Regions from separate parts of the Homo sapiens genome. Here region 1 is linked to region 2. The links come from fine-mapping of genetic effects on gene expression. A gene starts in region 2. The other region holds a variant in brackets. All regions are shown on one strand. Distances are from middle to middle.

Region 1 (2,809 bases), 42 kb after region 2:
TTCCTTTCTCATCAGATTCGGGATCAGGGTCCTCCCTGGTTTCGAGTTCCCTCTGCTACTGCTCTGCCCTTGCTCTCCCTCCCTGCCTCTCTCAGCTCTCATCCTTCTGGCCTTCCTTCCAGTACCTTGGGGTTTTCCTATTTGTTGTTCTCTTTGCCTGAAACTCTCTTCCCCCAGATATCTCCATAGCTTGCTTCTTGCTGTCCTTTGCGTCTCTGCCCAAATGACACTTTGTAATGAGGCCTTCCCTGACCACAGTCTGCACTTTGGGGGAGTACGCTCCTCATCCCTCACCCCTCACCTTGGCCTGGCACTTTCCATTCCACTTCCCTGCAGCCCTGCTCTCCATATCCCTGTCGCCCTCTGCTACATGATAGTAGTATCTTTCCTCGTTTATTGGTTGGTTGTCTACCTTCTTCCTCTAAAATTGTAAACTCTGTGAGGGCTGAGATGTTTGCGTGTTTCTTTATTGCTGGATTCCTGATATCTAGAATGGTACCTGGCACACAATTGGTGCTCAATAAATATTTATTGAATGACTATATAAAATTTCCTTTTTATATGTGCATAAAAACAGTTGTGGAAAAATCACACAGCAAACTATAACAGTGATTACTGCTGGGGAGTTGGATTAGGGAGCTGTGGAGAGAACTTTCATCTTTACTGTATACATTTCTGTGCCATTTGAAACAGGCACTACTTTCATAATTGAAAACTAAATTTAAAATATTTAAAAAGATAAACATAATGGTTCCATCTCTCCCCCCAGGAGAGATGGAAGTGACTCCATTTTTCTTTTTTTGAGCTCTTTTCTGCAAATACCGAAAATCATTTCTAAAAGGAACTATCCTAAGCTTGTCTCCACTGTACCATCCAGAGCTCAGAAAACATCAGCAAGCCTGGTCTTTATGAAGTCCTAACACCATCAAATAGACCAGGACTAGAAGACAGACAGACAGACACACACACACACACACACACACACACACACACACACACACACAGCCTTGTCTATGCCACATGCTGCCTTCTGGATAAAAAGCCTTTCTAATTAACACACCTGACACTTCTTTACACCCACTTCCTCCCTCAGCAGCAAGAGGGAATGTCACTGGTAACTGCTTGAGCCGTTTTCTCTGCATGGTAAAATCTTCAACATTGCTGTCAGACCTGGACCTGATTTGATGCTGTGAGGGCTACA[G/A]AATTCATCCAGTGTTTGGGAGCTCCTGAGACAAGACACATTGGCTCCCCTAGAAACAAATCAAACCTAATTTAGCATGACAAGCATCTCAGGGACACATTCACACACCACCACAGCTACACAAACCCTCTACTGAGTGTCTTTCTTTCTTTTTTTTTTTTTTTTTTTTTTTGAGACGGAGTCTTGCTCTGTCGCCCAGGCTGGAGTGCAGTGGCACGATCTCGGCTCACTGCAGCCTCCAACTCCCTGGTTCAAGGGATTCTCCTGCCTCAGCCTCCCGAATAGCTGGGAGTATAGGCACGCGCCACCACGCCCAGCTAATTTTTTGTATTTTTTTAGTAGAGGCGGGGTTTCACCATGCTGGCCAGGATGGTCTCGATCTCCTGACCTCGTGATCTGCCCGCCTTGGCCTCCCAAAGTGCTGGGATTATAGGTGTGAGCCATCATGCCTGGCCCCGAGTGTCTTTCGTAGGCTGTTGTGGTCATGAAGCCCCTGTTAAGTAACTCCTGCTCCTTATCCTTGGGCCTTTACTCCCCAGGAACATACCCATGGTAGTATTAGTGATACCCTCACTGGGAGCCAGTCCATGGGGCCCTTGACATTAGGTTTTCTTGACTTTTTAACTGGCCACAAAGACTCCCTGGCCCGTCCGTGAGGCCTAACCCCAACAGGATAGCAGACGGGGGAGGGGTGCAGTGTAACCCTGAGAGGCCAGGAGGGCCCTGACAGTTTCTGCAACTCATCCTGGAAAGTAGGGCAGCCACAGCCAACTCTCCCCACTATTTTAGTACGGAAACTGGAACTCTTAGAATTTTAAATGAGAACAGATCAACCAGCTGGGCTGTTTTTACTTTTTTCCACTTTGTTTCTTTTTAAGAGAATCAGCTGGAATGAAAATCAAGACTATCTGGAAACCAGCCTCTTGTAGACAGTTACACTTGATTTTGCACTTGATTTTCACTAAGTTTTGGCAAAGCAACAAATTTGAGCTGTGGGCCTAAGGCTGACAATTCTCTGGAACAAGTGCCCCTGGATTCAGCTTTGCTTACTTAGAAATACAAATGGGATTCTTACTCCTTAGCTAAGCTTGGGCCTCATGATTCTACTGATACTTAGGAAAAGGACATCAGTTTATCCTGGAGAAATCTAATTACTGAAATTCACCCTGCTTGGGACCAGAGCACAGGCTTTGGAATCAGAACATCAGCCACTTCTTTCCTGTTCCTCAAGTCAACCAACATTTTAGTGCCCACCACAAGCCAGATACTATGCCAGGTGCTGAGGACAGGGAGATGAATGAGGTCAGTCTCACTCCGGGGAGCTCTGGGCCTAGCAGGGACGACAGACACAAACGCAACAGTTACTGAAACAGAAGCACTGCCCGGAGTGTTCTCTAAAGTGAGCCCTGAGAAGGGAGGATGGGCCAGACTTGCCTTCGGTTACCCTGAGTGTTTATGGAGCCCAAGGCTGTTCTGTTAGCAAGAATGTCCCAGGCCACTCACCACATTGGTTTTCTGCATGACCCTGGCCCACTCCACAGGACTCTGCCTGGCGTTCAGATGTTCTGGGAGGCTTTTTAGCCACGTCGAGGTTCATGCCTGAGAGCT
Region 2 (2,809 bases):
AAACAATCAAACTACAAGAAAACTCCAGATAAAACTACAAAGTTAAACATAAACTTGGCCCAGGACCACTACAGTGGCTGAGGGATGACAAATACAGTTCTTTATATTGGTAACCCTTAGCCATCCATCCCATTCTATAGAAAGAGGACAGTACCATCTTTGACCCCAGGCCCCCTGTCCTGAGGTGCTTCTACTTAATGCCAGGAACAACTGTGCTAGAAAAAAAGACTGCACCCACCCCAGCTCCAGATGCACACATTAGCTGGTCGGTGAGATGCAGCAGCCTGGCTTCCTCCCTCTACCCACTCCTTGGGGGCGGGGCTGGAAGAGGAGAATGATGAAGAGATGTTGGGGGTTCAGGAAACCTTCACATTTGGCCCCTTTTCTCTCTCCCCACTCAGGATGGAAGGTCAAAGTTAGGACCAAAACTAGAGAAGTGGGTTTTGCATAGGGGGACAATGGATTCAACAGAAGTCCTCTGGATCTGGCAACTGTCAAAAAACCCTCTTTCCACTTCTTTCCCCCTCACGGAAAGCCATTAGGAATCACCTCTGTCTGGGTCATAGGAACAGCCACACAGCATAGGAGGCACAAGCCCCGTGAACAAAATTCGGTATTAAGAATAAGGAAAAAGAAAGAAGACCCGAGGGCAAGAGGGCAGGGCAGGACCTCTTCTTTCTACTGGAGAAGAGACATCCAGGGAGGAGGCACAGCCGAGGGGAGCGCAAGCTAGAAAAGCTACGACGGAATCCCCACCGAAACCGCAGCAGGGGTACTGGAAGGGGAGGAATCCGCGACGCAGCGACCGCGAGCCAAGGGCAGCGGCGGGCCGGGCCGTGACTCAGTGAAAGCCGCAACGGCCGGGCCTCGGAAAACGGCGGGCGCGAAGCCGCCGGGGCCGGGGCGAGAACGGCGGCGGGGGCTCACCATGTCCTTGGACGAGCCCAGCTTCTTGAGGCCGTCCAGGGGCAGCAGGTCGGCGGAGTCCTTGTGGATGAACTGCACCGCCTGCTTCATCCGGCGCTGCTGTCGCAGTGACGCCGCCTCCCGCATGTCGGTCTCCTTGCGGCCGCCCTCAGTGAGGAGCCCTGAGTAAAACATCGCTGAGGCGCCGGCGGCCCGGTAGCCCACAGCCCCCCGGCAGCCTCAGCCTCGAGCTCCTCCAGCGCCGCAAGGGCCCCGAGCCGCGCCTTTTATAGCCGAGCGTGACGTCGCGGGGAGCAGCCAGTGCGCGCGCGGGGGGCGGGGCCGGCACAGAGTCCACGCCCCGCGCGGCTCCCTCGCGTCCCGCGTCCCGCGTCCCGCGTCCCCTGCTCACCCGGTGGCAAAGCCGGCGAGGAGGCGGCGGCGCTGGTGGGGACTGACCCGGCAGTCCGAGAATCCACCGCGGCCTTTTCACCCAACCGCCCCCTCCTGCGTGGGGGCCCCGCATCCCCTGGACTGGCGTGGGCTCTGGGGCCCGATGCCCTGGCAGCCCCGGCCATCTCTGCCGCTGGCCGCGGGTACCTGCTCACCTGTCCACGCCGTGGCCGACCCGGGGATCACCGACAGCCGGGCCATGCCTCGAGTCCCGCCGCCCGCGCCGCTGCTCGGCTTCTCAGAAACGCACCTCCACGCCGCCAGCCGGGGCTCCAGGGTCCACCGCCCGGGCCCGGAGGACTGGCGACTCCCTCCGAGGTTGGGAGCGCTCCGGATTTCTCCAACTTCAGGTCGGTCCCCACCCACCGGGCCACGTGACTGGGGAGGGGGCAGCCGGTGCAGGCGTGTGGAGGAGGCTTTCGGGACCTCCTCCCCCGGGCACCCTCTGCCTGCAGCCCGGCACCCGGCCCGCGTTTCCGAGCCGGGGGAGCAGGTGCAGTCGGAAGCCCGCGGGTGGGCGTGGGGCGGGGGAGTGGCGAGGGTCCCCCGCCTCCGCGGGAGCGCACGCGGCTGCGAGCCCTACACCTGCTCTCCGACCAAAGAAGCACCTGTTTTTCTCAATAAGTGCTAGGGCTTACCATCTAAAGGATCGTTCACCATCCCTCCAGCGTCCTTAGTAGGAGCGATTGGAACCCGTTTTTCTTCCTGAATAATCCATACTTTTAAGCCATTCTAATCGGGCCTTCAGGCATCCTGGATTCTGGTCTCGACATTGTGATTTGACACAAATCACGTTTTCACTCTGGAAACCACAACTACTCCCTCCACCCCATCACGCAGGAGCAGACCTGGATAAGAAATATGTGCACTCTGCAAAGAACCAATGATAAAAGTAACAATATCGACGCTTACTGAGCCTTTACTATGTGCCAGGTACTAGACTAGACACTTAAAATGCAGTATCTCATTGGATCCTGGCAACAGCTTGTAAGATAGTATTCTCATCACCCCCATTTTACAGGCAAATACCTGATACCTTCTGTCTGGCCTCCTGAATGCTCCTTGGTTCCATTCCAATACGTTGTTCACTGTGCTGCCAGAGTAATCTTCTCAAACGATAAGTGTGATCATCTCACTTCCCTGCTAAGAGCACCTCAAAAGGCTTCCTATTGCTCTTAGGAGAAACCCACATTCTTGCATGGTCTGCCTAGACCCTGCATATTCACTCTGTACTTCAGCCTCATGGGCCTTCTTCCAGTTCCTTCCAGTCACCTGTTGCCAAATGGCCTGCCTTTGACTGTCCTGTTCCCTCTGTGTGCAGTGCCCCCTCCTACCCTCTTCAGGAAACTCCTATGCTTCTTCCAGACCTCAGCTCCATTATCATTTCTTTAGGAAAGCCTTCTCTGACCTTCCAGAGAGAGTGAAGTCTCTCTAATTATATACTATCTAT

Alleles and levels. Positions count from the first base shown, and alleles are read on the strand shown. Sizes are in standard deviations (SD) of each study's normalised expression.
For the expression in monocytes after interferon gamma of the gene that starts at base 1,167 in region 2, A is the low allele of the variant in region 1 and G is the other (small effect, 0.38 SD a copy in Fairfax 2014).

The links. PIP is the estimated chance that this variant, and not a neighbour inherited with it, causes the effect.
Region 1: its variant is the best candidate, but not a certain one, in a credible set for the expression of NRIP3 in monocytes after interferon gamma (Fairfax 2014, PIP 0.74).

The regions. Positions count from the first base shown.
Region 1 is chr11:9,044,652-9,047,460 of GRCh38, forward strand. It overlaps SCUBE2 (signal peptide, CUB domain and EGF like domain containing 2), which reads right to left. Exons shown (of 23, transcript NM_001367977.2): 16 at 2,705-2,809. All of the region lies in intron 1 of NRIP3-DT (NRIP3 divergent transcript), which reads left to right. Among named protein-coding and RNA genes, the nearest start is that of NRIP3-DT, 42 kb to the left of the region's middle. RefSeq lists an enhancer at 2,387-2,809. The variant G/A (reference allele first, on the strand shown) is at 1,202.
Region 2 is chr11:9,002,835-9,005,643 of GRCh38, forward strand. NRIP3 (nuclear receptor interacting protein 3) reads right to left here and starts at 1,167. Exons shown (of 7, transcript NM_020645.3): 1 at 928-1,167. The coding sequence starts at 1,101. It overlaps NRIP3-DT (NRIP3 divergent transcript), which reads left to right and starts at 1,254. Exons shown (of 3, transcript NR_183663.1): 1 at 1,254-1,709. RefSeq lists an enhancer at 344-1,263.